4 linked regions of the Homo sapiens genome follow. The protein of the gene in region 1 interacts with the protein of each later gene in a pairwise test. Each region holds a gene or a part of one and is shown on either strand. Other genes may lie near its edges.

Region 1 (8,028 bases):
GTCTTATTTTTCATCTCAAGTCCTCTCATTGTTCTTAGAGACATTCTTAGATGACCTGTGAATGACCTGACAACACCCTAACTCATCTTCTCCACCTTATCATTGAAAATGATCTTTTCTGTCTCTTCACCTTAGCCACACATTTCCATGATTGCACCCTGGACCTTGTTCTCAGCCTCCAAAATTAATGGCATACACTGTACGCTTTTTACTCCAAGTTCTTATCTTTCCAGTTTATTTAATGTAAAGACCCTCAGGCTATTGACCCACCACTTTCATTCAGTTAGTCTTCCCCTTATCTAGCTTAGATTCCATCATAGTTATCACCATTATTCTTTTGCAAATATCTGTAACTGCCTTACTCCTTTCTTTATCTTTTACCCTTATCTAGCAAAACCCCAAATATGGATGAACCTCTTTGCCTTCTCTATGCTGATCCCCTTACAGCAGTGCAAAGGTGAAGAGGCAGACTGGTGTTTCTATAAATTCATGATCCCTAATCTCAGCTTGCATTTATTTTTGCAAGTTCACTCCACATACTTATTTTATACCTTTCCCACTTCTCCCTTCCTCCTTCGGCTAATGACTCCCTCTTTCATTGACAAAATAGAAGACACCAAATGAGAGCATCTTAGCTTCCAATTACTGAATCCACAAATTTGCATATATATATATCCATCTTTCTTTTCTTTCCTTCAGTTAAAATGGAAGGACTGTCCTTCCTTTCGAAGGCATGTCCTACCATAATTGCTATGAATTCTTTTCTTCAAGAATTTTATTCCTTCAGTTATCCCCTCTCTGCGTCATCATTTCAATCAGCATCAATTTTTTTTCGTTTTTCCCATTGTTCTTCCCTAGATCCTTTGCATCCCTGTAGCTAACATTCCATTTCTCTGCTGCTTTCTAGCTAAACTTCTCATCAAAGTTATTTATTCTTACTTTCTCTACCTTTTTATTTCCATTTGTTTTTCAGTCCACTTGTCAAGGTCTTTAAATACTTTTTGCCAAATTTATTTGGCGTTTTTATATCCACATTCTACTTGGCCTTTAGGTACTATTTGATAGGTAGCCCCTCTCTTCAACATTCCTACTTCTTGGTTCTGGTATTCTTCCAACCCCGTGGCCCTTCTTTGTCAGTCTTTTTGACAGCTCTTCTTCTTGCTCTTCTCAGCCCGTAAATGTTGGAGTTCCTCAAGATGCAGATAATCTTCCTGGGCTTTACTCCCTGTATTTTTTTCTCATCATTCTCTTACTAAATGATTTTATTTATTCCCCATAGTTTTAAATACTATCTATAAGCTGATCAGTGTGTGTGTCCAGACTAATCTCTAAACTTCAGAATCACATACCAAACTACCTACTTCAGTTACCTACTTGGATGTCAAACAGGTCTTTTAGATCTCAAATGTCTAAAATTGAAATCTTTACTTCCCACCCACAATTGTCCTTCAGGCTCCTACCCACTTCCCACCAATCCACATTTTAATCAGTGGCACTGCTAAAAACCTGGTGGTCATCCTTGATTCCTTTCGTTCCATCATCCTTCGCACACACATATCACCTCAGGACACCATCTCTGGCCTGCACTACTCCAGTTACTTTATTATTCCCCTGCCTTTTCCCCTTAGCCCTTTCCAATTCATTTACCTTGTAAGTCTGCCGATCACACAGTCCGTCTCACTTAGAATGTAAAATCCTTACTGTTGCCTTCATGGTCTTGAATAAGCAAGTTCCTGCTTACCTCTCTGGCCTCTCATTTCATGGTATTCTACATGTATTTATGATATTGTTCATCTGTTCTCATTCATGTTCATTCTTATTCATAGTTGCCCCTCCCCTTCTATCCGCAACAACCTCTTCTTAGTTTCTAGAACGCACCAAACTCTTTTTGCCTTGGAGCTTTGGCACTAATTTCCTCTTCCTGACATGCACTACCCTTGCTGTTCACTTAGAATGCTATCTTTGCCTGTTAATTTTCTTTCTCACCACTTAACTATAAGTTCCCTGTGGGCAAGGATCATGCACAGCAAAGACCCAGTACATAGCACAGTACTTGACACATAAGCATTTAGTAAATATTTGTTGAATAAATGAAAGCGTGGTCAATAAAAATCTCCTAGGATTTTATGAGACAAACTGATGTCTATTCTTTACCTTGCCAAATAACCCCAAGGCTTCCTCCCGAGTAGCTGGGAGTACAGGCTCCTGCCGCCACGCCTGGCTAATTTTTTGTATTTTTAGTAGAAATGGGGTTTCACCATGTTGTCCAGCCTAGTCTCGAATTTCTGACCTCATGATCCACCCGCCTCGCCTCCCAAAGTGCTGGGATTACAGGCATGAGCCACCGCGCCCAGCCTGCTTTTTCTTTAAATATACACAAGTTCTGTCACCCAGAAATACTTCTTATATGTACAAAGATTTCCATTGCTTATTGTTTCTAACAATGAAAGTAGAAATTGATAAAATATGGTTAATGGGAACACTTCTGTGTTTAATAATGATATATATTTAATGACAAAGATAAATATCTGCTATGTTAAGTGAAAAAAAAGCTGCAAAATATATGTGACAGTACATTTTTCAAAGGCAAAAAATACTTGGAACTTATATGCAACTATGTGTGTATGAGTAAATGTGTGTGTATTTGGTTTTATATAAAGAATGCCTACAAGAATACACACCAAATAGTGTATTTAAAAAACAAGTTAGAGAATAATACATATTGCATGATCCTAATTTTGTTGCAAAATAAAATTTTAAAACTGTGCACTGTTGTAGTGTTCTGCTTTTTAAGGGCCAAACAATACCCATCAAACCACTGGCCTTGATTTCCTATGGGAATTAGAGGTGGGGTACTTGCATTTTTTTACTTGATGGACTTAGTATTTGAAATGTTTATAAAAAACATTTAATACTTTTATGAGTTTTTTAATGGATAAAGATAATTAAGAAAGGGGAAAATTATTACAAAAATTATCCTAACCAGTGAAATTCACCAACAGCTAAAATTTTAACATATATACATGCCATATTAATATATAGAATCATATATTAACCAGATTTTTTTCTTCTCACCTCTCCCCCACAGGAATAAATGAAGAAGAGGAAAAGAAGAAAGAAAAAAGCAAAGAAAAAATCAAATTGAAAAAAAAAAGGAAAAGGTATTTTTTGAACAACATTTTAAAAAACAAAGCAGGCCTATGAGTTTAGGATGGATTATAAAATTTTATTTTTTGTGTATAATAGTTAATTTAATATTTTTTCTTCAACAACTAAGCTTTTCATTGAGCTTAAGTTTAAACTCTTAATATATATTTTGTCTTCATATACATGAAATTGACTAAAATATTTGTATTCTTGTAATATTACCATGGCTAATAAATTAACTTATTAATAGAATTTAATAGAACTTGTCATGCTGTCCAGGTGCGATGGCTCATGCCTATAATCCCAGCACTTTGAGAGGTCAAGGCAGGAGAATGGCTTGAGCCCAGAAGTTTGAGACAGGCTTGGGCAACATAGGGAGACCTCATCTCTGCAAAAAGTAAAAGAAAAATTATCCAAGTGTGGTGGCATGTACCTGTGTTCCCAGCTATGTGGAAGGCTGAGGTGAGAGGATTGCTTGAGCCCAGGAGACATGATCACACCACTGTACTCCAGCCTGGGCAACACAGCAAGACCCTATCTGCCCCCCGCCCACCAAAAAAAAAAAAATATATATATATATATATATATATGTAATTATATGCACATACACACACCTTTGTATTTATATGTATTTAGCCTGACAGTTTCATATATATATATATATATGGTGGCTGATGAGGGTTGTGAAAGACCTGAAGGAATTTTTAGCATCACAACTTCCTTCCAGTCTTCGGCCACCTGTGCATTTTTACTATTAACTCTTTTAAAAACTAACTGGTTAAAGAAGTTATTGAAAGTAGTAAGTGGCCACTTCTCTTGTTAATGCGTGCAGTTTCATTCATACTAGCATAAATTTGCACATACAGGCATTTTTTAAAAGCACTTAACCATAATTATTTCTAGTTTAGACCCAGTTCTCATACAGAATAGGTTGTAGAAACCAGGGGCTGCCACTTTGTAGTTTTTATAGAGCATTTAATACATGTATTTTAATATTTCAGGTATCTTATAAATTGGAAAAGTAGCCCACTTTCAAGCGTTAGGAGTTAACTAATAATCTTTAATATAAAAACAAATAGGAATTTAGAGCTCAGGGTTTTCTGTTAATGTATTATTAAATCATTTATTCTAGCACAGGAAGATGGATTGCTCACAGGAAATGATATCTGATAGTCTTCCAAATTCTAATACAGATAGTTCCCAATTTATGTGGTTTGATATGATCTTTCAACTTTATGATGGTGCAGTAGAAATGTACTTCAAGTACCCATACAACCATTCTATTTTTCACTTTCAGGACAGTATTCAATAAATTACATGAGATATTCAATGCTTTATTATAAAATAGGCTTTGTGTTAGATGATTTTGCCCAACTAGAGGCTAATGTAAGTGTTCTGAGCATATTTAAGGGCAGCCACGTTAAGCTATGATGTTCAGTAGGTTAGCTGTATTTTGTGTATTTTCAGCTTCAGATAGATTTATCAAGGCGTAACTCCATCATAAGTTGAAGTACATCTGTATATTTCTTTTTTTTTTTTTTTTTTGAGACAGAGTCTCGCTCTGTTGCCCAGGCTGGAGTCCAGTGGCACAGTCTCAGCTCACTTCAAGCTCCGCCTCCCGGGTTCACTCCATTCTCCTGCCTCAGCCTCCCCAGTAGCTGGGACTACAGGTGCCCACCACCATGCCCGACTAATTTTTTTGTATTTTTAGTACAGACAGGGTTTCACCGTGTTAGCCAGGATGGTCTCAATCTCCTGACCTTGTGATCCGCCTGCCTCAGCCTCCCAAATATTTTTTATAGTAACAGATTATTTATTTGGGCCTCTTTACCTTGAGCATCACAAACCTGAAATTAAATTAACTTTTCTGTGCACACTTAGCAGAGATAGTGCCCCCTGAAAGTGTTGCTATGCCACAGCCTGAAATTTTGCCTTAAAAAGGAGACTTCAGGCCAGGCACGGTGGCTCACTCCTATAATCCCAGCACTTTGGGAGGCTAAGGTGGGTCGATCACCTGAGGTCTGGAGTTTGAGACCAGCCTGGCCAACACAGTGAAACCCCATCTCTACTAAAAATACAAAAAAAATTAGCTGGTGGATTACAGGTGGGTACCTGTAATCCCAGCTACTTGGGAGGCTGAGGCAGGAGAATTGCTTGAACTCGGGGGAGCGGAGGTTGCAGTGAGCCGAGATCACGCCATTGCACTCCAGCCTGGGCAACAAGAGTGAAACTCTGTCTCAGAAAAAAAAAAAAAAAAAAGAAACAAACAAAAAAAAAAACTTCAGGACCAAAAAGCTAAAGAAAAAAGTGCAGGCAGGGAAGAAGCTTTAGTCAGAATCCAGAGGTCAAGTCAAACAGGGTCTTTAAAAGAGGAAAATAGACAAGATTTGAGAATAACAACTGAAGAGGCAAGGGTGCAGGAGAATACATGAGAAAATAAGCTTTAACAGATGATTGGAAGTCTAAGTAAGTAGACAAACAAGGAGGAAAAAGGAACACAACATTACAAAAATAAGGGAAAACTCGGAGTCACTAAAGGAGGAAGGCAGTCAAGGAATTCACACACTATACAGACACAAAATAGCCTTGGAGCCCTGTAGTCTCCTGAATTTACATTGGCACCTCCTTTATATCCGTCTCAGATTTTCTTAGTTTGAGTTTTAACTCCTAATATTTAGATCACTAAACTAACTCTTTAGATACCTTTGTTTACATTTTAAATTAACTCAGTTTCTGTCTTGTCACTCATATTTTGAGTTTGAGTATAGGTAGAATGTTGCACATCTCTTTAAGTAAGATCTTAAAAGATAGGGTTTTCTGTTTTTTTCTTTTTCTTTTCCTTTTTTTTATGAATATTAGAGGAAGGAATTGAACCAATTTTTTCAATTTAGTATTAGAGTAATATTTTTCAAAAGCACAATGATAACCCATCCTTTTTCATTTATATATAGCATAAAAGCATCCTTTTGTAACTAATGAAAATTATTTTGTAATGCAAGTATTCATCTGTATCACTCTCCGTCTAGAGGGATCAAGTACTTGAAAAATCAGAAGAATTACCAAAAGTGCTTTTATTTTGCTAACTTTCAGCTTTCATTCATTCATATGAACGTACAATTATAGCCCTTTAAAATAGAGAATTGCAACTTTTGAGACACTTTTAAGAAAATATGCGAAGTTATTGTATACACAAGTGAATATAATAAGGCTTGGTGAATGCCCCTTTGTTTGCCTTTTAGGATTTTGAATGATATGACTGCATGAAAAACCAAAAATCACAGAAAAATAATTTCATCCTTATTGACTTTAAAACTCATTACATTAGTATTGAGTGGAATAGATACTAGTTTTGTTGGTTTCTGTGACCAAGCAGCAAAAATTCTAAATTCATCGTTTTAAGGGAATGCAAATATATGAAGCATTTTTTAAGTTTATGTTTATACTCCCTACCTTACTCCAAGAAGAATTTAAGGCAGTTCAAATCCCACTTAAATTTATCTATCAGTCATAAATGCAATTCTCAGTCAGTATGTATTATTATCCATAGGTCTTACTCATCCAGTTCCACTGAAGAGGACACTTCAAAACAAAAGAAACAAAAATATCAGAAGAAAGAAAAGAAAAAAGAAAAAAAGAGTAAATCAAAAAAAGGGAAACATCACAAAAAGGAAAAAAAGAAGAGAAAAAAGGAAAAGCATTCTTCTACACCTAATAGTTCTGAATTCTCCAGAAAGTAACTGAGACTTTGGCTTAAGCCGTTAAATTTAAAAATTTGTTTTTAAAACGTGTTTGCCCTTCCTTGGAATTTGCTATATATTATGCTTTGCAATAAATCACAGCCTTTTCCATATAGACATTTTTCGTATTTGGGACCATTATCCCTCTGGCAATATATTTTTAATGTGCTGTAACTGTAAAGTATTAAATCAGTCTTGTTACTTGATAGCCATGCCCCAAGTATAGCTATTTGTGTATACTAAACACATCATTTTTGGTATTTGTGTCTCTGTGTGTTTGGCTAGTGTTACTACTTCATAAGTTCATTGTAAAATGGCTTTACTGCCATCAACATGGGTCATCTACCTAGCAGTTAATGAGTATTGCTGGATCAGGTGTCCACCTTCCAATGATGAAGCAAGGTAAGGGGTAATGTTTTGCTCTTGACACAGAGAAATTTAATAGCTTTATGTACTAAAATATAATATCTTTTAAAGATAGTGAAATTCTTCAGTTTTTTAAATCTCTAGGGATTTTTTTTCAATGTTGTAGAAGATGCAGCTGCTTAATGGTCTTGACTAGGACTTTTTAAATGAATGGTGTCTGCAGGTAGATGATCATGAAAATATCTCTAACAAAGTTTTACTCTTCTATGAAATGCAGAATTTCTAGTACCTGCCTCCTTTGTTTTTGTAATAATTAAAATACTTCTTGTATAAAGAGATTAGTTCAGCCTGTTAGTAAGTCTGCAGAGATGATGCTGAGTTGGTTGTGATTTTTAGAATAGACTCCTGGGTTGTTTTACAAATGTGCCATATTGGCATGTCTTACAGTGATACCTCAAACACAGAAATTTTTATTTAGGAAGATAGCTAAATCTTTATTAGAACTGATTTTTATTGTATTCAGTATAAATTTTATGAAGCTTGTTTCTATGAGTACTGTGGAAAATTTTATAAATGTGAGCATATATATTTATTTTGTCTGACATAATTTGTAGTTTTAAAGCAAGTTTCACACTGAACTTAACGTTTTCATAAATGACCAGTTTGGGATGTTTCTCTCTTTTACTTTAGTGGCAAACTCAAGAGTAAAAAGTGTCAAAAAAAGAATTGAGAATTTTATTCTGTACTTTTTAAAATTTAAGAGCCAGGGAGTTGCATC
Region 2 (8,028 bases), on another chromosome or scaffold:
TCTTTTTTTTGTAAGTGTCACTGAGGCTGGAGTGCAGTGGTGTGATCTCGGCTCACTGCAACCTCAGCCTACCGAGTTCAAGCCATTCTCCTATCTCAGCCTCCCGAGTAGCTGGGATTACAGGTGTGCGCCACCATGCCCGGCTAATTTTTTTTTTTTTTAAGACAGAGTTTCGCTCCTGTTGCCCAGGCTGGAGTGCAATGGTGTGATCTCGGCTCACCGCAACCTCTGCCTCCCAGCTTCAAGTGATTCTCCTCTCTCAGCCTCCCGAGTAGCTGAGATTTCAGGCATGTGCCACCACACCTGGCTAATTTTGTATTTTTAGTAGAGACGGTGTTTCTCCATGTTGGTCAGGCTGGTCTCGAACTCCCAACCTCAGATGATCCGCCCGCCTCAGCCTCCCAAAGTGCTGGGATTACAAGCATGAGCCACCGTGTCTGGCTAATTTTTGTAGTTTTAGTAGAGACAGGGTTTCACCATGTTGGCCAGGCTGGTCTCGAACTCCTGACCTCAGGTGATCCGCCCACCTCAGCCTCCCAAAGTGTTGGGATTACAGGTGTGAGCCACTGCACGTGGCCTGTATGTAACTGATTTTTTCTCCATTATTTCTGGGTTCCTATTTCTTCCTTTTAATCAGTATCTCTCTGTTATCTGCCCCCCTTGGGCAACTGTCCCCTACGCGCTCTCTGAATCCTTGTCACCCCCCTGCCCCACCCCCTGACCCTGGGTGTGACGACTGCAGTGTGGCTCTGACCAGCCCCCTGTCTCCTTCCTGTCTCCTGCTTGCCTGCTGTGTCTGCTGATCTCGGAGTCCCCTCTTCCTCTAGCTCTTGTCCCCTGACCTGGGAGTTCAGCTTCCCCCTCCTGCCTTGCATTTGGGAGCCCTGTCTTCTTTATGGCTGGACACCCCATCTACTGCTCATTCAAAGGACATTTCCTGGGCTGGGCGTGGTACCTGTAATTCCAGCACTTTGGGAGGCTGAGGCGGGTGGATCACTTGAGCTCAGGAGTTTGAGACCAGCCTGGCTAACCTAGTGAATCCCTGTCTCTACTAAAAAGTACAAAAATTAGCCGGGCGTGGTGGCAGTCGCCTGTAATCCCAGCTACTTGGGAGGCTGAGGTAGGAGAGTTGCTTGAACGCAGGAGGCTGAAGTTGCAGTGAGCCAAGATCGTGCCAATGCACTCCAGCCTGAGTGACAAGAGGGAGACACCGTCTCCAAAAAAAAAAAACAAAGGACATTTCCTTTCTCCTCAGACCCTGGTTTCTGAGACCATCCGCCGATTTGGCCGCCTGGATTGTGTTGTCAACAACGCTGGCCACCGTGAGTTGTGAGACCCCAGGGCCATTCTCCACCTCCTGCCCCCCAACTCTGTTTCCTGCACGTCAGTTTCCCCACTCCCTGCCCCTGATTCCCTCATCCTGCCTCATACCTCTTTCTAGCCACTTGGACAGGAGAGTAAAGCAATGGAAGCCCCCCAGGCCTGTGCTGAAACTGTGGCCCTGTTCCATCCCTCCTGTGTGTCCCCAGGGCTGTGCCCTCACTTGGCCATGTCTCTCTTCTTTTCTTTTCTTTTTTCTTCTCTTCTCTTCTTTCTTTTCTTTTTTTTTCAGATGGAGTCGCACTCTGTCGTCCAGGCTGGAGTGCAGTGGTGTGATCTCAGCTCACTGCAACCTCTGCCTCTTGGGTTCAAGCGATTCTCCTGCCTCAGCCTCCCAAGTAGCTGGGATTACAGGCGCCCACCAGCACGCCAGGCTAATTTTTATATTTTTAGTAGAGATGGGGTTCATCATGTTAGCCAGGCTGGTCTTGAACTCCTGACCTCAGATGATCTGCCCACCTCGGCCTCCCCAAATGCTGGGATTACAGGCATGAGCCACTGCACCCGGCTTTTTTTTTTTTTTTTTTTCTGAGATGGGGTCTCACTCTGTCGCCCAGGCTGGAGTGCAGTGGCTCGATCTAGGCTCACTGCAACCTGCACCTCCCAGGTTCAAGCAATTCTCCTGCCTCAGCCTCCTGAGTAGCTGGGAATATAGGCACCCGCCACCACACCCAGCTAATTTTTGTATTTTTCGTAGAGACAGGGTTTTGCCCTGTCAGCCAGGTTGGTCTTGAACTCCTGACCTCATGATCCGCCTGCCTCAGCCTCCCAAAGTGCTGGGATTACAGGCGTGGGCAACTGTGTCCAGCCCCCGTCACTTTTCCTCTCTCTCTCACCCCCCACTTTAGACCCACCCCCACAGAGGCCTGAGGAGACCTCTGCCCAGGGATTCCGCCAGCTGCTGGAGCTGAACCTACTGGGGACGTACACCTTGACCAAGGTGAGGGCTGGCGACCCTGCCGCCAGGCCCGAGCAGCCTCCTGATAGGTGGATTGTGTGATGCATTTTGTCTAAGAGCAAAATGTTTTCCGTTCTTTTTATTTGTTTGTTTGTTGGAGACAGGGTCTCTCTCTGTCGCCCAGGCTGGAGGACAGTGGTGTGATCTCAGCTCACTGCAACCTCCACCTCCTGGGTTCAAGCGATTCTCGTGCCTCAGCCTCCTGAGTAACTGGGATTACAGGTGCGGGCCACAAAACCAGCTAAATTTCATAATTTTTGGTAGCTATGCTTCTGACTGCAAGTGATCTGCCTGCCTTGGCCTTCCAAAGTGCTGGGATTACAGACTTGAGTCACCACGCCTGGCCATCTATTTTCTGTTATTTAGTTTAATCTCCTTATTCCAAAAGGAAGATAAATGACTGCGAATCTCTACATCCAGCAAATCTACCTTTGTAGCTACATAGCCCAGTCTTAGGAACCTTCTAGAACCTTCCAGACTGGTGGTGGTAGGAGGGGATGTTAAGAACATATTGGGGCCAGACACAGTGGCTCACACCTTTAATCCCAGTGCTTTGGGAGGTCCTTGTGGGAGGTTCACTTGAGGTCAGGAGTTCAAGACAGCTGGGGCAATACAGCGAAACCCCCCATCTCTACAAAAAGTTTAAAAAATTAGGCGTAGTGGTGCCCTTGTAGTCCCAGCTACTCAGGTGGCTGAGGTGGGAGGATCGTTTGAGCCCAGGAAGTCAAGGCTGCCATGAGCTATGTACACACCACTGCATACAGCCTGGGCAACATTGCAAGATGCTGTCTCAAAAATAAATAAATAAATAAATAAATAAATAAATAGGCCAGGTCCAGTAGCTCACAGCTGTAATCCCAGCACTTTGGGAGGCCGAGGCAAGAGGATCCCTTAAGCCCAGGAATTCGAGACTAGCCTGGGCAACATAGTGAAACCCTCGTCTCTACAAAAAATACGGAAATTACCTGAGCATGGTGGTGCGCCTCAGGTACTTGGGAGGCTGAGGCGGGAGGATTGCTTTGTTGTAACCGAGCGAGTTATAGAGAAACGCCACACTCTGAGACAAGATCAGGAGTCCTTTATTAGCCGGCAGCCCAGAGACGGCTAGCGCTCAAAATTCTCTCGGCCCCGAAGAAGGGGCTAGATTTTCTTTTATACTTTGGTTTAGAAAGGGGAGGGGGGAGTCTAGTTAAAACAATCTTACAGAAGTAAAGCAGGCAAAAAAAGTTAGAAAGATAAATGGTTACAGGAAAGCAGACAGTTCCAGGTGCAGGGGCTTTAAACACATCCCAAGGTGATAGACGCTGGACGTTGGGCGCTATCAACCAGACAGAAACGCGGGGGCTTAGGGTACTATTAATCGGGCGACTGCCTGGGAACTGCGGATATAACTTGCCACAGTATCTTATCAGTAATTGCATTCTTTGATGTGCTGGGAGTCAGCTTGCACAAGTTAAGTCCTTGAAGAAAGGGGGGTTGGGTTAAGGGGCTGCAAGTGAAGGAGCCAGGATGGAGTCTGTCTGGCTCGCTCACCTAAGGGAGAGTCAATTCAGGTTAAAACAAGGTTAGGGTATCACAGCTTGAGCCCAGGAGGCGGAGGTTGCAGTGAGCTGAGATCGTGCAACTGCACTCCAGCCTAGGTGACAGAGTGAGACCTTGTCTCAAAAAAAAAATAATTCATTAATTAATTTTTAAAAAGAGCATGGAGTCCAGGCATGGTGGCTTACGCCTGTAATCCCAGCACTTTGGGAGGCCGAGGCAGGCGGATCACCTGAGGTCGGGAGTTTGAGACCAGCCTGACCAACATGGAGAAACCCCATCTCTATTAAAAATACAAAATTAGCCGGGTGTGGTGGCACATGCCTATAATCCCAGCTACTCAGGAGGCTGAGGCAGGAGAATCACTTGAACCTGGGAGGCAGAGGTTGCAGTGAGCTGAGATCGTGCCATTGCACTCCAGCCTGGGCAATAAGAGCGGAAACTCCGTCTCACAAAAAAAAAAAAAAAAAAAAAAGCCAGGCCTGGTAGCTCATGCCTGTAATCCTGGCACTTTGGGAGGCCAAGGCGGACAGATCACTTGAGGTCAGGAGTCCAACATGGTGAAACCCCATCTCTACTAAAAATACAAAAATTAGCTGTGCGTGGTGGCAGGTGCCTGTAATCCCAGCTACTCAAGAGGCTGAGGCGGTAGAATTGCTTGAACCTGGGAGGTGGAGGTTGCAGTGAGCTGAGATTGTGCCACTACACTCCAGCCTGGGTGACAGAGTGAAACTCTTTCTCAGAAAAAAAAAAAAAATTAGCTGAGTATGGTGGTGCTCCTGTAATCCCAGCTACACGGGAGGCTGAGGTGAGAGGATCACTTCAACCTGGGAGCTGGAGGCTGCAGTGAGCCGTGATTGTGCCACTGCACTCCAGCCTGGGCAACAGAGCGAGTCCTTGTCTTAAACAAGAATTGGGGGAGAGCTGGGGAGGGAATGAGAAAGAAAACAAACTTTTTTATCTGAGAAAGGAGAGCCCCTTTAGATGATCAGGATCAGGCCCAGAGGGGCTTTTTAACAACTTTTTTAAAAATTAATTAATTTATTTTTTGAGACAGAGTCTTACTCTGTCACCCAGGCTGGAGTACAGTGGCACAATCTCGGCTCACTGCAACCTCTGCCTCCCAGGTTTAAGCAATTCTCTGCCTCAGCCTCCCTAGTGGCTGGGATTATAGGCACTCACCACCACGCCTGGCTAATTTTTTTGTATTTTTAGTAGAGACGAGGTTTCACCATGTTGGCCAGGCTGGTCTTGAACTCCTGACCCCGTGATCCACCCACCTCAGCCTCCCAAAGTGCTGGGATTACAGGCATGAGCCACTGTGCCTGGCCTTTTTATTTTTTAATAGAGGTGGGGTTTCACTATGTTGTCCAGGCTGGTCTCAAACTCTTGGGCTCAAGTGATTCTCCTGCCTCAGCCTTTCAAACTCCTGGGATTACAGGTGTGAGCCACCGCACCTGGCTCAGAGGGACTTTATAAAAATGTATTTTAATTACTTTTTGAGACAGGGACTCACTCTGTTGCCCAGGCTGGAGTACCATCATAGCTCACAGCAGCCTCGAACCCCTGGGCTCAAGTGATCCTCTTGTATCAGCCTCCTGAGCAGCTGGGACCACAGGGGTGCACCACTATGACTGACTAATTTTTAACTTTTTTGTAGAGACAGGGTCTTTCTATGCTGCTCAGGCTGGTCTCGAACTCCTTGCCTCAAGCTGGGATTACAGGCATGAGCTACTGCACCCATCCAATAATTACCTTTTGAGGCTACTTGGTTTCTGGACTCTAGACGACCTGATACCAAGTAGCTCTAGAGTGTCACACACTCTATAGTTCAAACATGTATAGCCAATCACTAATCAATGTGATGTCTGTAAACCAATGACAATTCCTGATGAACAACTTTTGTAATCACCGCCTCTCTTGATTCGTCCTTTTTTCTTTAAAAAGTTGAGCCTTTGGCCGGGCGCGGCACCTCATGCCTGTAATCCCAGCACTTTGGGAGGCCGAGGCCGGCGGATCACGAGGTCAGGAGATCGAGACCATCTTGGCTAACGCGGTGAAACCCCGTCTCTACTAAAAATACAAAAAATTAGCTGGGCGCGGTGGCGGGCTCCTGTAGTCCCAGCTACTTGGGAGGCTGAGGCAGGAGAATGGCGTGAACCCGGGAGGCGGAGGTTGCAGTGAGCCGAGATTGCATCACTGCACTCCAGCCTGGGCAATAGAGCGAGACTCCGTCTCAAAAAAAAAAAAAGAAAAAAAAAAGGAAGGAGAAGGGTTGGTCACGGTGGCTCACACCTGTAATCCCAGCACTTTGGGATGCCAAGGCGGGTGGATCACTCATCAGGAGTTCAAGACCAGCCTGTCCAATATGGTGAGACCCCGTCTCTACTAAAAATACACAAAAAATTAGCTGGGCATGGTGGTGAGCACCTGTAATCCCAATTCCTCGTGAGGCTGAGGCAGGAGAATTGCTGGAACCTGGGAGATGGAGGTTGCAGTGAGCTGAGATTGCACCACTGCACTCCAGCCTGGGCAACAGAGCAAGACTCTATCTAAAAAAAAACGAAGGAGAAGAACACACATCAAAGCCTTTCCCTCACCCTTGCTTATGCAACAGCTGCACACAAACATCCACTCTCCATAACATCTTTATTCTCCGCATAGCACTTTTTAATTAATTAACTCAACAAATAGTTATATAGCACCAGCAACATGCGGAGCCCTGCGCATACAGCTATGAACACACAACAGAAGAAAATCCCTGTCCTTGCCAGGCACGGTGGCTCATGTCTTTGTAATCCCAGCACTTTGGGAGGCTAAGGCGGGCAGATCATGAGGTCAGGAGTTCGAGACCAGCCTGGCCAACATGGTGAAACTCCGTCTCTACTAAAAATACAAAAATTAGCCAGGCGTGGTGGTGGGCGCCTGTAATCCCAGCTTCTTATGAGGCTGAGGCAGGACAATCTCATGAACCCAGGAGGCAGAGGTTGAGGTGAGCTGAGATCACACCACTGCACTCCAGCCTGGGCGACAGAGCGAGACTCCATCTCAAAAAAAAAAAAAAAGTGGGGTTTTAGGTTTGTTCTCCCCACCTCCAGCAACTGAGCAACTGACCGGACAGAGCTGCCATTCACTGTGGCAGGAAAGCCTGGCGGGGGCGCTGTTGAACATGAACTGCCTGGTGGACGTCCTGGTGGGAATGGGCATTGGGCATGAGATCGTGGAGGTGGGGCTCTGGAGATACCAGCTTGCAGCTGACCAGTTTGAGGCTGGAGGAACTCAGGGGAGCAAGAGTAGGCAAAGAGGGGAGAGGCCTGGGGGCGGGCCCAGTGTCCAGGGAGCTTCAGGTGCTGACTCTGAGGTCGCATCCAAGATCCAGGTGAAATGTTCCCGGGAGGTTGGGCAATCCCCTGCTTAACCAGTGAACCCTGGCTCCTGTTCCAAATTTGTGTTGACTTTCTAGGATTAACCCAACACTAAAAACACCTCCACACATAAAACACACCTACACCTCAGCCCATGAAGAGTTAATATATGTGTGTGTGTGTGTGTGTGTGTGTGTGTGTGTATATATATATATATTTTCTTCTTTTCTTTTACTTTTTTTTTTTTTTTTTTTGAGACAATCTTGCTCCATCACCCAGGCTGGAGTGCAGTGGCAGGATCTCGGCTCACCACAACCTTGACTACCTGGGCTCAATAAATTCTCCTGCCTCAGCCTCCCGAGGACCTGAGACTACAGGTGCCCACCACTACGCCCAGCTGATTTTTGTATTTTTTGTAGAGTTGGGGGTCTCACTATGTTGTTCAGGCAGGTCTCAAACTCCTGAGCTATAGCGGTCTGCCTGCCTCGGCCACCCAAAGTGCTCGGATTACAGGCGTAAGCCACCATGTCCGGCCTATCTTTTTTCATTCATTGCCAACATTTCACAAGGCAGATTTCACATAAACCACCACATTTCTTGTTTCTCTTAGAAAGTTGGTCAAGTTGGGCTGGGCACGGTGGCTCACGCCTGTAATCCCAGCACTTTGGGAGGCTGAGGCGGGCGGATCCCGAGGTCAGGAGATCGAGACCATCCTGGCTAACACGGTGAAACCCCATCTCTACTAAAAATACAAAAAAATAGCTGTGCGCGGTGGCGGGTGCCTGT
Region 3 (8,028 bases), on another chromosome or scaffold:
AAACTTATTACAGCTTTGTAATAAGTTTTGAAATCAGAAAATATGAGATCTGCATTTTTGTTGTTCTTTTCAAGATTGTTTTGGCTATTTGGTATCTTTTGAGATTCCCTGTGAGTTTTAGGATGGATTTTTCTGTTTCTGTAAAAACGTATATATACACACACATTGGATTTTGATAGGAATTGTATTGAATCTGTAGATTGCTTGGGTAGTATTAACATCTTAACAACTTTAAGTCTCCCAGTCCATGAGTACGGAATGTTTTTCATTTATTTGTGTCTACTTTAATTTCTTTCAGCAGTGTTTTTTGGTTTTCAGTAAACAAGTCTTTTGCCTCTTCAGTTAAGTTTATTCCTGATTATTCTTTTTGATGCTGTTGCAAATGGAATTGTTTTCTTAATTTCTCTTTCTGGTTGTTATATAAAATGCAACTTGATTTTTGAATGTGGATTTTGTATCCTGCAACTTTGCTGGATTTGTTTATTCTAACAATTTTTGTGTGGACTCTTTAGGACTTTTGACATATAAGACCACATCATCTGTGAACAGAGATAATTTTACTTCATCCTTTGCAGTTAGGATGCCTTTTATTTTGTTTTCTTGCCTAACTGCTCTGGCTAGGACTCCAGTACTATGTTAATAGAAGTTAACCTATATATTTTTAAGCATAGACATAAATACAGAATCTGGGCTTAAAACGTGAACGCTTTAGCCATGGCAAGGACTTTTTCAATTGGCTTTCATGAAACTCATGTTGGTTGTTTATTAATAGTTTTTCTTTTTTCTTCCCTTTTTGTAGAAAATTAGTGAATTAATAAAGAGACCCAATGTCAGCCCCAAAGTGAGAGAACTTTTAGAGCAAATTAGTGCTTTTGACAACGTTCCCAGGAAAAAGGCAAAATTTCAGGTATGAATTGACTTTCTTGAATGGAGGGGGCCGTGTGGCCCATCAGTGACTGAGCTTGTGTGTACCTGTCCAAGTGGGATCAATAGTTCTTTTTCTTTTTCTTTCTTACAGAATTGGATGAAGAACAGTTTAAAAGTTCATAATGAATCCATTCTGGACCAGGTGTGGAATATCTTTTCTGAAGCTTCCAACAGCGTAAGTCAGATCTGATTTTAGATTTGCATTGTGGCAAAAATAATTAGTAATAATGAAATGGGAATTTCTTATTTTTGGAAGTCAAGGCAGCCTTCTTTTTTATTTTTATTTTTTTGAGATGGAGTCTTACTCTGTTGCCCAGGCTGCAGTGCAGTGGTGCGATCGTGGCTCACTGCAACTTCTGCCTCTGGGTTCAAGCAATTCTCGTGTCTCAGCCTCCCAAGTAGCTGGGACTGTAGGCACGAGCCATCATGCCCAGCTAATTTTTTGTATTTTTTTTTTTTAGCAGAGACAGAGTTTCACCATGTTAAGCAGGCTGGTCTCGAATTCCTGACCTCAGGTGACCTGCCTGCGTTGGCCTCCCAAAGTGCTGGAATTACAGGCATGAGCCTCCGCACCTGGCCCAGCCTTCTTTTTTAGAGAACCTCTTAGTGCCTTCATTTATGGAAAGGAAGAAACTGAATGCACTGCAGAGACTTCCTTATTGTGAAGAGCAAGATGTTTCATCCCAATGTTTGATGCTGGTGCCAGCCCAGTATGTAATGATTTGCTTAGTAATCAGGCAGGGAGATAGATACATGGGAAAGAAAGAACAGGAGCTTTGGATTTCTGACAGACCTGGTTCAAATCCCTGCTGTGCAGTTTGCCTGACGTTTGATCTTAGGCACATTATTTAGCCTCTGAGCCTCAGTTTCCTTATCTAAAAAAAATGTGGATAGTAATATTCATTCATTTATTTAATACTTAACTGAGTGTCTGATCTGTGCCAGGACCTGAACAAAAAAATCTAAAGTATCCCAGGTGGTGGTGCATGAGGGAAAATAAAACAGGGTGAGGACGTAGTGACTAGGTGTTCCTCTGGATAAGGGGTGAGGGGGTCACAGCAGCCTCTGAAGGTTACGGTTAAGGTAGATGAGCAGTGTGCTTGAAGCGCCTTCCTTCTGGTAGAAGGAGAATTCCCTTCAAGTAATTAAATCAGCCACCTGTTAGTCAAAATGGTTGAATAGAGACCCTAAATGTGGACTATATATGTAGAAAATCTTGGTTTGCTATCTTTCAGCCACATTGTTGATTACATTGTTTATTTTTGTGTAAATATCAGTTTCAAAAAACAGTGGGGTCAGAACCCCACTGGTCTTTCATTCTTATCAAATTATCGGGAGTTGATTCACTTATGTAGAGAGAATACTTTCGGCAACAAGTGGGCATCAAGATGAAAATTTATCTCGGTAGTACACCTAGCGTTTGTCTCTTTCAGAAGGTACAAATTGGCCCTTTGAAACCGTATAACCGATCATTAGATTGGCCTTTATGTGGCATCTATTTTTTAAGGTTATTTCTGTTTTAACTAAGAATCAAAGATTTGAAATTGCTTCAACTGCAGGGTTTTAGAAAGTTTTTTCCAGTTTCCCTTTTGAAGTGTGAACATATTAAACATTAAATAAAATAAGGAGTAAACAGCCCCTGGTAAACCCTGAGCTCTGCGAAACGCAGCTTGTCATCCCTTACCTCTGCCTTTGCACCACGGCCCTCCCAGCATACCCTGTGTTTGTAGTGCAGAGCAGAGGGTCCTGAGGCCTTGTCCTCCGTACCTTGGTTGTTTATCCTCCTGTAACTCTGCCAGATGTCAGGTCGGATGCTTTTCTGTCCTCTACCCCATCACAGTTCACCTGATCACTGTGGATGCAACTGTAATTAGGCCAAGGTCCTGGCTGGTTGGAGCTGTGTTCTAGTGGGGGAGATAGGCACCACGTGCGGGTCCATGGTGTAATGTCAGGTCCTGATCAGCACTGGGAAGAAGCCAGAGGCATTGGGAGGCCAGGACTGAAGGAGGTGCTCGATTAGGAAAGAGTCAGGGCATCACAGAGGAGACCACATTTGAGGAGAGTGTGTAATGAGGTAAAAAGAAGATGGGGAAGAATTGGTTCACCTATTTATTGAGCAGCTACCAGATGGGTAAATGTGTGCCTCCCTCCCTCTCTCCCTGTGGCCGAGGAGTTGGTTTAGACAAAGAGGCAAGGCACCAGCTGAAAATCTGGTCTGGATTGTGTAGAAGGGATGCCAGGGTCTCAGGCTCTCAGTGGTTAAAATAATATTTTATGGCGGGCACAGTGGCTCATGCCTATAATCCCAGCACTTTGGGAGGCTGAGGCAGGCAGATCAGTTGAGGTCAGGAGTTTGAGACCAGCCTGACCAACATGGTGAAACCCTGTCTTTACTAAAAATACAAAAATTAGCTGGGTGTGGTGGCAGGCGCCTAGAATCCCAGCTACTCGGGAGGTTGAGGCACAAGAATCATTTGAACCTGGGAGGCGGAGGTTGCAGTGAGCTGATATTGTGCCACTGCACTCCAGCCTGGGTGATAGAGCGAGACTCAGTCTCAAAAAATCATAATGATAATAATATTTTACTAGAAGATATCGACAGAATTGTAGGACAGATGTGAAGTTTCTTTGTCCCCTTCTTCCTAAGTCTATTTCTGAAATCCTCCTCTGCCCTTTACCCCATGAGCCTTGACAACCTGATGCTGCTAAGCCACTGCTACTGAGAAAACCAGGTGGTTACATCAGTATCCATTTTCTTTTCTTTTGAGACGGAGTCTCACTCTGTCACCCAGGCTGGAGTACAGTGGCACGATCTTGGCTCACAGCAACCTCTGCCTCCTGGGTTCAAGTGATTCTCCTGTCCCAGCCCCCCGAGTAGCTAGGATTACAGGCGCTTGCCACCACGCCTGGCTAATTGTTGTATTTTTAGTAGAGACAGGGTTTCACCATGTTGGCCAGGCTGGTCTCAAACTCCTGACCTCAGGTGATCTCCCTACCTCGGCCTCCCAAAGTGCTGGGATTACAAGCATGAGCCACCGCACCCGGCCTACAGTATCCGTTTTCTTTTTTTTTTTTTTTGAGACAGAGTTTCATTCTTGTCACCCAGGCTGGAGTGCAGTGGCGTGATCTTGGCTCACTGCAACCTCCACCTTCCGGGTTCAAGTGATTCTCCTGCCTCAGCCTCCCCAGTATCCATTTTCTAATGCTGCTCTTGTAGCCAAGGATCGAGCCTTAAGGTCTGAGTCCTGAGTCCTTGCACTCTAGTGAAAGCTTGTCCTTTTTTATTTGGTCCAGTTTTGAGGACATAGTCCTTGCTACCCACAATCTCCCAAAGGAGGAAGACTGTAGGTAACTTACCCTGTCCTTTGGCTAGACTAACAGAGACGGAATTTGAACCCCCGCCTGCAGGTGCATCAGCTCAGTGGTTTCTCACACCTGGAAGCAGCCACTGGCCACTCTCTTTCCCTCCAGAGGCATCAGGGAACATGGAACAGTTCAATGAATTGCTCCAGGTCATCTCTTGAGAAAGGGGCTCAGGGAGGGAGTTCAGGAAGGAATGGGACTGAACTTGCTGATGTCACTGTTTAAAGTAGGCTCTATGTGCTGATTTTAATAAGGTAATGCAAGGCCTGGCGCTGTGGCACACACCTGTAATCCCACCACTTTGGGAGGCCAGGTCGGGCGGATCACCTGAGGTTGGGAGTTCAAGATCAGCCTGGCCAACATGGTGAAACCCTGTCTCTACTAAAAATACAAAAATTAGCCAGGTGTGGTGGTGCATGCCTGTAATCCCAGCTACTCAGAAGGCTGAGACAGGAGAATCACTTGAATCTGGGAGGTGGAGGTTGCAGTGAGCTGAGATTGCACCACTGCACTCCAGCCTGGGTGACAGTGAGACTCTGTCCCAAAAAAAATACATAAATGAGGTAATGTATTTAACAGGGGTAACCATTAGAGAGACACCTCCATACGTAAAGAATGGTGACCCCGTCTCTACAGAAAATAAACAATTTTCCGGTTTTGATAGCTTGCGCCTGTGGTCCCAGCTACTTGGGAGTCTGAGGCAGGCGTGTTGCCTGAGTCTGGGAGCTGGAGGTTGCAGTGAGCTGAGATTGTGCCACTACATTTCAGCCTGTGCAACAGAACAAAGCAAGACCCCTGTCCCCATTAAAAAAAAAAAAAGAATGATGAGAATGGTGACCATTCTTCTAATGGTAACTTTCCAGTCTGAATAATGATGATAATAACAGTACCATTTTCTAAGGCTGATAATTTACAAAACTCTTCACACACAATGGGCTGGTTTATTGGGCATGTGTTATGCTAATAAGCACATGACGGATCTTTCCTCGTTTCATCCGTCCGTGTGTGAGGTAGGTATTACTACCTTTCATTTTACAGATGAGGAAATAGGTTTGGAAAAGATAAATGACTTGCCCTTAGTCACCTGACTAGGAATTAATAGAACTGGAGCTTGAACCCAGGTCTGCAGACACATAACATCCAGTGGTTTCTACCACCCCTAAGTACTCTTCTCTTATCTAAAAGGTGAATAGTGAGCTGGAATGAAAGGTCTTATCTTCAGCGACATAAGGATTCTTCACTTTTCCAGTGGAATGAAAATGTCTGTTCTGTGCAGACAGAGGGGTGTGGACTGGGGGAAGTGGTTTCCCATTTTGTATATTTACTGCTACATTTTAGCTGTTGGTGGGGGTCACAGTTATAAAACGATAAGGGATTAAACCAACCGTTTTTCTTGAACAGTTTATGTAGTAGGCCCAGGCAATAACGTGACAACTCTATTTACACATTTAAAATGAATATGTGTTTCTTGCTTTTGCTTAATGATAAGGAACCAGTCAATAAGGAACAGGATCAACGGCCACTCCACCCAGTGGCAAATCCACATGCAGAAATCTCCACCAAGGTTCCAGCCTCCAAAGTGAAAGACGCCGTGGAACAGCAAGGGGAGGTGAAGAAGAATAAAAGAGAAAGAAAGGAAGAACGGCAGAAGAAAAGGAAAAGAGAAAAGAAAGAACTAAAGTTAGAAAACCACCAGGAAAACTCAAGGAATCAGAAGCCTAAGAAGCGCAAAAAGGGACAGGAGGCTGACCTTGAGGCTGGTGGGGAGGAAGTCCCTGAGGCCAATGGCTCTGCAGGGAAGAGGAGCAAGAAGAAGAAGCAGCGCAAGGACAGCGCCAGTGAGGAAGAGGCACGCGTGGGCGCAGGGAAGAGGAAGCGGAGGCACTCGGAAGGTAAGTGGCTAGCTCACGCTCTGGGATTCATCTGAAAACCGGGAAAGCTGTGAATTTGGGATATTTAAGCCTGTTAGACCTAGCGTTTTGTGTGCGTGTGTGTGTGGTTTTTTTTTTTTTTGTTTTTTTTGAGACGGAGTCTTGCTCTGTTGCCCAGGCTGGAGTGCAGTGGCACGATCTCAGCTCACTGCAACCTCCACCTCCCAGGTTCAAGCGATTCTTCTGTCTCAGCCTCCTGAGTAGCTGAGATTACAGACGTGTGTCACCAGACCCAGCTAATTTTTGTATTTTTAGTAGAGATGGGGTTTCGCCATGTTAGCCTGGCTGGTCTCGGACTCCTGACCTCTGGTGATCCGCCCCCCTCGGCCTCCCAAAGTGCTGGGGTTACAGGCATGAGCTACCGCACCTAGCTAGACCTTATGTTTTGAACCAAGTAAGGGAACGAGCATAAGCTTTGTGGCCAGGCAGAGGTGGGCCCTGCCCAGGCAAATGACCTCACTTCTCAACTCCTTTCATCCCATCTCCAGCATGGAGGAGGATAAAACCCTCCTGGGGTTTTATAAACCGGGGCTGGGCAGCTTGGAGAAGAAATGAGATGATACGTGGAGTTTGCCTAGCTCGCATAAGGTCTCATTAAATGGTAGCTGCTAGCGTAAATGCAAAATCTTCTTTAAAAAAAATCTTTCCAAATACTTAGTTGAAACAGATTCTAAGAAGAAAAAGATGAAGCTCCCAGAGCATCCTGAGGGCGGAGAACCAGAAGACGATGAGGCTCCTGCAAAAGGTATATCACTGCTGTCATTTGAGGAGCACGGCTGGGCACAGCGGCTCTCGCTGATAGTCCCAGCTACTTCAGAGGCAGGGGCAGGAGGGTCACTTGAGCTCAGGAGTGTGAGGCTGTAGTGAGCCATGGGCGTACCACTTTCAAAAAGCGAGAGAGAGAGAAAAGAAAAGAGAGAAATACACGGTCCCTTGTAGGTTGGGAGAGGGGCCGAGAGATGCCCCCTTCTGGGGAAGGAAGGTGTAATGTGGGCACTTCTAGTAGGGTCTTACCCTCCAGAGGTATATATAAGAATTTGAAAGTAAAATCAGTTCTCTAGGGTGTGTGAGTCAGTCTTACAGTGCCTCTCACCCACTGTCTTTAAGGAGAAAAGTAAAGCAGTCTGGTTTGGAAATGTATGTTATCTTTGAAATTTAAATAAGCCCAATATAGCTTTCTGAGACCCGGTTCCCTTTCGCTCCTCCCCAACTCTCTTGCCCCTGCCTTTCACTGTTCTCTTAGAAGTCCCCTGAACTGTGCCCCTGCCCATCTCTGGGCCTGTTTCTGGGGTCTCCTTGCTTGTATCCTCAACCTCAGAATCCAGTCCCTGGCCTTCACGGGCCCTCTGAAATGCTGTCTCTTACACAAAGCTTCTCTCCTGCTTCTTCAGGCCTGAAGCACTCATACCTGTCGGGAGGTGGCAAGTCGTCATCTCTCTGCCACCTCCCCCAACCCCCAGGATCCTGCAGTTCAGAACAGGTCCAAAGACTCAAATGGGCCTGCAGCTTTATTAGCAGAGTTCAGTGACTGCCAGCATTGGGTTAGATCTCTAAGCTTAAAACCCCCTTCTCAACTTAGTAAACAGTAGTGTCCCCATATCTGTGGGATGGAAAATTCCAGAAATAAACAATTGATAAGTTTTCCATTGCATGCTGTTCTGAGCAGCATGGCGAGATCTCTTGCTGTCCTGCTGTATGCCTTCTTCACCACAAGAAGGGTGAGGATAGGACAATAAGATATTTAGAGAGACACAGAGAGACCACATTCACATAACTTTTATTATAGTGTATTGTAAAATTGTTCTAT
Region 4 (7,570 bases), about 20 Mb from region 1:
TCCATCAGAATTTTTTGTTGTTGTTGTTAATTCCCAGCTCACTCTGTCCAGCCCAATGTTTGGATAGCTTCTTCCCCATCCTGCTAACTGAATGACACCACAACTATTTTATTTTAGAAGTAAATAAAGTTTTTAAATTTTTAATCGAAAAACCTTAAAGGTTATATACATAGGATCTAATGAATTCGGGTAACAAATGATTTTTAAGCAAAAATAATTGTCATCATTATGACATTATTTCAGCTACTTTCTTTGAATCAGATAATGTGGTACTTAATATCTTTAGTATGAAACATAAAATGAAACACTTTAAAAGCACCTCTACACGTATTTTTATTACTTATAAACATATTGTGAATTTTAGTAAATAGAACCAGTGGCTGAGGAGAAACAGAAGTTAATGTTGAATGTGTGTGCATCCCCACAGAAGAAAACTAAATTCTTAATTCTTGTAAATTTGTATTCAAAAATAAAATGCTAAATTCTGGTCAACTGTCATTCCCATTAGTACCTGGTACTTTCTAAACCAAGGAATCTTGAAATGTTTGACTGACGTATTTAAGTTAACTGACAAGACAATCTATGCTTAGAATTCCTGAACAACTAACACAAAAATGTCCCCTTTAAAGGTGACTTGGAATTTACCATTGAGATAATGCCAAATGGTCACTAAAGATGTTTAAACATCATTGTCTACTGTCTTCAGTGTGCCATTACAGAGCCTTGGGTTCCTTTCACATAACAATCAATAGTGGATGAATAAGTCTCACCACTTGAAAGTATCTGAGAAAGGAAGTCAACAGAGTAATCTGGGTTTGCTGGGTTGATTCAAGAAGAGACACAATATCCACCCCTCTTCTTCTAGTTCTCTTCCCCCAACCAGCCCACACCCCTGCAAGAAAGAAAGAAGGGAAAGAGAGAAAGAAGGAAAGAGAGAGGGAAAAGGCAAGACCAAAATGTAGGGATCCCAGGCATAATTTACGCTGAGGAGAAAATGTCACACTGTGGGATAAAATATAGCCATGGAAACAGACTTATGACTTTTACTTTGAAAATAAAAGAATGACAATGAAATTTGTGTGAGGTCTGTGTGAATCCAGTCCCAGATGTTTACAATGCTGTAGTAGTATGGCTCTGCAATATGAGAGGTTTCAGAAGAAACAGTACAACAGGACACCACAAAGCAGTGCATACGCTATTGACAATGCAGACATGAGCATCATGTTACCAAGAGGGAAGGCAGGCAGAAGACAAATAGCAGCGGTGGTGCCTGAAAAGCTAACTTCATGGACTGCAATCACTCAAACTAACATAAGGGACCCAAAACAAAACAAAACAAAACAAAAATCAAAACCAGAAAAATGCTTTTCGCTCATATCTAGAGGTAGTGGGGTAAAGGGATGGGGGTGGGGAGAGAGTGGAATTGACTTTTCTTTCTTAAATAAAGTTCCCACAAAGCCCCTATAATTGACAGCGGATAATTATTTTCAGCTTGAGGAGCCTGTCCCAAAACTCTTAACAAGATTGCCAGGGAAAAGAAACAAAATGTGTTTACTTGAGCCATTTCCAGAAGGAAGGAAAAATTGCTCTTTGGATGAGGTGGGAAAGGCGGTGGAGAGAGAAAGGGGCATCTTTGCACTGCAACAACTCTCTTGAGCGCCCTGCGTGGTCCGGCTAGTGACAGGCTGGAGGGAAGGGGTGGGTAGAGCGGCAAGGGGTGGGGGATGTGAAGGGAGCGCGCTTAGGGGAGGGGATGCGGCAGCACAATGTATACACGGGGGTTGGGGGGTGAATTAGTGTGAAAGTATTCCACTTAATCATTTTACAGGGGTTGGGGACGTAAATATTTAGCTGGCCACATCTGGAACAGATTTTTCCCCCCCGTGTGGGCTGGGGGTGGATAATTGGAAGGAGGGGAGCATGCATTTGTTACTTACTGTACGGGCAGTTCTCCTTCTTGGTCCCGCTGACCTTCCCGTTCTTCTCAATCTTGAGAAAGTACTTGGTGAAAGAGAATAGCTTTCTCCAGCGGACATCTCCTTGAAGGTGATTGTAGCTCCGCACATGCCTTCCCGCGCTGGAAGGAGAGGAGAAGGAGGAGGAAGAAGAGTTGGTGGCCTCTGGTGACACCATGTCCTGACCAAGGGCTTGGCAGGTGACAGGGACGGAAGACACCAAGAACAGCAACAAAAAGCAGCAGCAGCAGCAGCCGGGCAGGTGGGGAAAGGCTGAGGCACAATGTGTCAGTATCCATTTCCACATTGTACTGAAACTCTCGGCACTGGAAATTGTCTCATCAGAAGGAACATACTGGAAGGGTAAGACCCGATGCAAGGCAAGGAGAGAGCTCGAGGTGGTGGCTGCTGGTTAGCTCCCTCTGGGCGCGGATCTGGCCAGAAGTGAATGCACCAACATCCATAACTCCTCGGAAAAGCCGGCTGACTCCCCTCGCTCCTTTCTCGGATCCGCTGCCTACGCCTCTGGAGCCTCCCGGTAAATGGTGGACGTGGGTGGCCGCAGCAGCAGGAGCTGGTGGTGGCGTTGGTGGTGTTGGTCACCAGCGCTCTTCGCTCCCCCAGGAGTTACTTTGTTCTCTTCTTTACTCCTTTCTTCACCATGTTAGATGCCAAAAAGGTCTGAAAAACAGATGACAGCACGGTGAACAAAACCCAAGGGAGGTGGGGTGGGGAATAGGGGGAGATATCTGCACCCCTCTGCGGTTGGCACCTTCTGGTCTCTCTCTGCGGAGCCCCAGCCTGCGAGCCACTTCTACAAGTATATCCCTTTGGAGTTGTCAGAAGTGGAGGCAGCTGCCCAGTCGCCGTTGTTTTCTTCCCTCTCTTCCTTTCTGTTTTTAGTGGTGCCTGCCGATTTGAAGGCTGCCGAAAGTCACTTTTTGTTTTGGGGGACGGCGGCTGGTGTTTTGTATGGCCCTATCTCCCACCCCCTTCCTTTGGAAAGTCCGCTTGTAAACAGGTTGAAGCCTGGAGTCTAAATGTCAGTGATTCTAAGCCAGAGGTGGGCTCTGCCTCTGCTGGTCAAACCTCATTTGCAGGGGTGGAGAAGAGGGGGGAGGGGGTCAACCGGCGGTGGGACATCTGAAACCCTAGGCTGCTGGGAACGCCAGGGAGAGGGAGGGTGAAAGGGGCAGAGAAGGGGGTGGGGGAGCAGGGGAGCGAGGAGAGAGCGCGATGCCTTTGCACCGAGCTCGGGGGCTGCCAGGTCCCTTCCTCGCCGCGGCTGTTGCGGCCGCAGCCTCCGCCGGCGCCTCTAGCTCTGTCTAATTCGCTGCTAAAGCGTCCTATGCTTGCAGCGCGGGCCACGGCGCTGACGGTATCTTCCCGCTTTCCGAATTTTGCTGTCTTCCAGCCTGAACCAATCCCTTCTGGGGAGCCCCTTTCTCACTTGCTTTCCAGCGTAGGATCTCCTCCCCCCACCCCCATTTCTTTTGGCAGTGAAGTACTTGAGAGCCACCTGGAGCCTGGTGCTTGGCTGACTTTTCCTCCCTTCTCACTCCCAGAAGAGGAGAGGGCTGGGAGAAAGCAGAAGATGCTGAGGATTTTAAACCGTCCAAAGCAGCAGGTTATAAACTGGTCAGAACGAGCACAGAAAAGGAAGACATAATTAGTGTCCTTTCCTCCTCTGCTGCCAGCTTCCAAGGAGGTCTCCTCTTTAATGAATCACTGATTTCTCGCTTCCGTTGCTGAAGTAAAAAGTTCACACTTTGGCCCTCTCTGCCTTTTAAGCTCAGGGAGATTTATCGTCACCCTTAAAAGTTGCCTCTCTCGGCGCAAATGAAATCAGGGACCCAAATAACCGATTTCTAATTGCTAACATGAGCCCTTCACTGAATCATGCGTGCACTTCAAAGCAAACGCACTTTATGGCGATCGCAAAGATTTTACCATATAATTTGGCTGAATAGCCTGCTGTCTGTTTTCTTTTTTATGCAATTTCCTTTGCACTTTGTCATAAAGGGGAGGTTTTTTTTTTTTCTATCTTCACATTTAATGTTTAAAGGGCTCTGTTTTACAATATCACTGCACTACTAGTCCTCCTCTCCTTTTCACACTCTTTCAGGCCACCCCAACTCCTCCCTTGCTCGCAGAAACTAGCTCACAGCCCAGGTATTGACAGAACTAAGTCCAAGGCTAAGAAACCTTTGCCAAGAGTTAAGAGGCACAAAAAAGGAAATACTGTGATAATCCATTCCAATCTGAATAAGAAACAGCTCCTAGAGGACCACTTCTTTAAGAATGACTCTAAACTAGGGAACGTTTAACTAGAAGGAATGCCTAAACATGTACTGGAATGAACTATCTATGTCACATAGGACAGTTAGACATTTGTGTTTTGTTGAAGCCCACAAAATTGCCAACATTTTAAGGTTTTGTACCTACAAAAGTGGTAATTTCATATGTTTCAACCTAAAATTAGGCTGCCAATGTAAGACAGAGAAACACTTCAAGGTGAACTGGGAGTTTAACAACAGCAACTGTAATTTGGAGGGAACTAATTAGAAGAGTCTGTGTTCACACAAGCTAGGATCCCTATGATGTGCGTTTGACCTCCATATTGGTTGTGAACCAGAGGAAATGCAAAGAAAAAAGAATTAGCGTTAGAGATGAGCATTAGGAATGATTGCTCAATTAAGTATTTAGTGACTTGAAAAATGAGTTTACATGAATGTTCTTATATTTTTCTGTGTATTCAAATCCTTTGAAATAGAATCATTTAATACTAGAATCAGGATTTTAATTGCATTAGTTATAACTCATGCAGTGCTTATTTAGAAGAGTTCAACAATGTGGTGAACATTACAATAGGTTTTTAAAGTTTAATATAATTAGCTCTAATTTCTGTAGATATTAATTGGAAAGTTAAGCAAATAAAGAGCACACATCAAGCGAGTCTTTTTCTTTAGGATACTGAAAAATGAACCAACAGTGCGAATTTCAATGTTTTAGTTCACAGTTTTATACCTGAGAGGACAAATGCCTGAAAGACAGTGTAGTGTTTCCCATGGATTTGGGTTTCAGCCCAATGGTCCAGAAGAATCCAAATGTTTGATTTTACAACTAATTAAAACTACATTTTTTAAAAATTATGTTTGATGAAACCATACAATAAAGATTCTGCTGTGAAAAGTTACAAAACACAGGAAGTTATTATTTTGGGGTTTCTGTACAATAGGAACCAACACTATTGATGCCACTTTGGGGTTTAAGAATTTTTGTTAAACTCACCCTAGACATGTGCCCCTCCAATCCAAAGCTAGTCTCTCTTTCTCCCTCTCTCTCTCATACACACATCTACCAACTTTATGTTCCAGTAGAAGAAGCCATTCAGATCTTTTAGCTAGGAGTTTCTTTGTTTTTTCTGTCTAAAATGAGGGAAAAGATGTCTTTAAACTTTCATATTAAAATCTGGTTGCAGCAGGTGCAGTGTTTGAAAGTTCTAGAGCCCCTTCGCTGCTCTTCTGTACAGCGTGATGACAAGAGGGCATTTACAAAACAGCCCAAAGGAAAAGCTGACATAGCTTTTTAGATTATATCTCATTCTTCTTTTTCTTTTCTGTGCAGCCTTTCTTTTACAGCACAGTTGAATCCCTAAATACCCGACTACTTTGCATTGTTAGGTCACCTCTTAGGTTAGCCCGAGAAAGCCTGAGAAAAGTTCCACAGGAAAGATGCACTATTTAACGGAATTCAATCTCTCCCAATAGATTTGAATCACTAACATAAATGTATGAATGTAGATTATATCTCTGTAATGAGGCCTGAATCATTCTCAGTTACTTCAAAGGACTGAAATTCTACCTTCCTTTTTTAGCTGCAATAATCAGGTCTTAATGGGTTCCTTTATTAATTGTTTCTTTGCTAGGATTGAAAAGGACAGTACAAGCTTCAGATTAGAGTGGTACCTACTAATTCTCAAAGGCTGTTTTTCTCTTTTATCCAACTTCTGGAAGGCATACTTTATTTCTATGCCCTTAAACATATCTGCTACTATCAGGCTAGCTCTGTATTGAGAGAAATAGATGCAGCCTTTTGTTACGTGTGATGTCTTGAGAAATGATTGAGGCTTTTTAAAACAAGACCATGGCAGCAGCCATTGAAGAATCCTAAAACCTGGCTCTTGAACCTCAGAGAAGCAATCAGTGTATGTACTAGCAGATCCTTCAGTAGCTATTGTGTTTGAGCAGTTTACATTTTACATATGTATTGCCTGGATTCTTTATGTTGCTCAGCACTACCTATGGTTCAGTTACAAGATGTGTGCCCTATTATGTATGATGTTATTGGCAGCGTCAGTAAGCTGCTTCAAGTAATGCTAAGTAAGGTCAAAAGTCAGCCACGCTGTTCAAAAATTTAGACATATGCAGGCCTCATTTTTTCACCCTGTGGTGCAGACCTTATGAGTATGTGTCACAGCCCATTTTTCCCTTTTGGACACAGAACATGCCAGTTTTAAGTCATCATTAGGACTTGTGCACTTCCCAGGCTGCAGCTAGAAATGATGCTAATAATCACTCACATTTGGGTGAATGAAGGAGTGATATCTTATTGTTTTTAAACCAGGAGCTTCAAGTGAACAGAAAAGAGGTGTTATCCCACAGATAGTGGTGTGCATTGCTTCAGAGCCAGTGGGAATCTTAGCTATAACTGAATCCAACACATGTATTTTATAGATGAATAAGCTGATTCCCAGGTCACTCCATGGTAGACCAGAATTTGGAACTCCTGTGATAGACCTTAGGCTATTACCCTAATTTTTGCAACACCTGTCCTGTTTATATTCTTTTTCTTCCTCCCTACTCCCTTTCTTACCATTGACCATTCATCATTCTAATATGTCTAAGATGGCAGAGTAGAAATGATAAAAAGAGTTAGGGGTTTAGTTATGGAAAAGCAATTATATCTTTGCTGCAATAGATTAACCAGAGAAAAGTAATAAAATAGTGTTGAATTATTAAGTACCAGCTGGGTTAGCTAAAATAAATATTGATATATACTTGGCAAAGGGGGATATTTTATCAATGCTTCCGAGATGAGCACAATCAAAAAGTAATGAATACCCCATATTTTCAGAATACCCCAATTTTTTAATAGAATCTGAATTTATAAGTTCACCTCTAGAAAACTGATGAGACTTTCTAGAAAAGTAGATTTATAATTTGATCCGGGTTTCTGCGTTCTAATATTAATTTTCCATAAAGTATTGTGATATTTCAAAGCATAGGTTGCTTAAACAAGTTTTTTTCAAAGTTTGAAACTAAGGTTAATTTTCTGTTCCCTCACTTTCAAACAGACTCAATGATCTGTTATTAGGAAGGAAATATGGCCAAGATGATAAAAAGGATCTTTTGTAACAAGAAAAGAATTCTATATAAGATTGTTTAAAACATACAATAAATCACCACAAATTCCTGGAAACTGAACTTTGCATCTTGGCACTAAACACAACAAACATATTTTCACAAAGCTGCTGTTTGTCCCCTCCCAGCTGATGGTAAACAGAACCTTCCCTTGACAAAGTTGTGAAGTCTCTGAAAAGTTTTGTTTGTTTT

The links.
Region 2: the proteins of SREK1IP1 (region 1) and HSD17B14 interact in binary tests that used the Homo sapiens proteins (3 or more experiments, as listed by UniProt).
Region 3: the proteins of SREK1IP1 (region 1) and LYAR interact in binary tests that used the Homo sapiens proteins (3 or more experiments, as listed by UniProt).
Region 4: the proteins of SREK1IP1 (region 1) and FGF10 interact in binary tests that used the Homo sapiens proteins (3 or more experiments, as listed by UniProt).

Annotation. Positions count from the first base shown.
Region 1 is NC_000005.10:64,723,240-64,731,267, reverse strand, and holds part of SREK1IP1 (protein SREK1IP1), read left to right. Parts: intron 1-3,088; coding exon 3,089-3,161; intron 3,162-6,694; coding exon 6,695-6,884; 3' UTR 6,885-8,028. UniProt on the Homo sapiens protein: Possible splicing regulator involved in the control of cellular survival.
Region 2 is NC_000019.10:48,825,960-48,833,987, reverse strand, and holds part of HSD17B14 (L-fucose dehydrogenase), read left to right. Parts: intron 1-1,255; coding exon 1,256-1,322; intron 1,323-2,228; coding exon 2,229-2,320; intron 2,321-8,028. UniProt on the Homo sapiens protein: Catalyzes the NAD(+)-dependent oxidation of L-fucose, yielding L-fucono-1,5-lactone, which rapidly converts spontaneously to L-fucone-1,4-lactone. Can also act on D-arabinose and L-galactose, with lower catalytic efficiency. Does not use NADPH.
Region 3 is NC_000004.12:4,272,521-4,280,548, reverse strand, and holds part of LYAR (cell growth-regulating nucleolar protein), read left to right. Parts: intron 1-799; coding exon 800-907; intron 908-1,018; coding exon 1,019-1,102; intron 1,103-5,779; coding exon 5,780-6,182; intron 6,183-6,879; coding exon 6,880-6,966; intron 6,967-8,028. UniProt on the Homo sapiens protein: Plays a role in the maintenance of the appropriate processing of 47S/45S pre-rRNA to 32S/30S pre-rRNAs and their subsequent processing to produce 18S and 28S rRNAs. Also acts at the level of transcription regulation.
Region 4 is NC_000005.10:44,386,421-44,393,990, forward strand, and holds the start of FGF10 (fibroblast growth factor 10 precursor), read right to left. Parts: upstream 3,001-7,570; 5' UTR 2,263-3,000; coding exon 1,938-2,262; intron 1-1,937. UniProt on the Homo sapiens protein: Plays an important role in the regulation of embryonic development, cell proliferation and cell differentiation. Required for normal branching morphogenesis. May play a role in wound healing.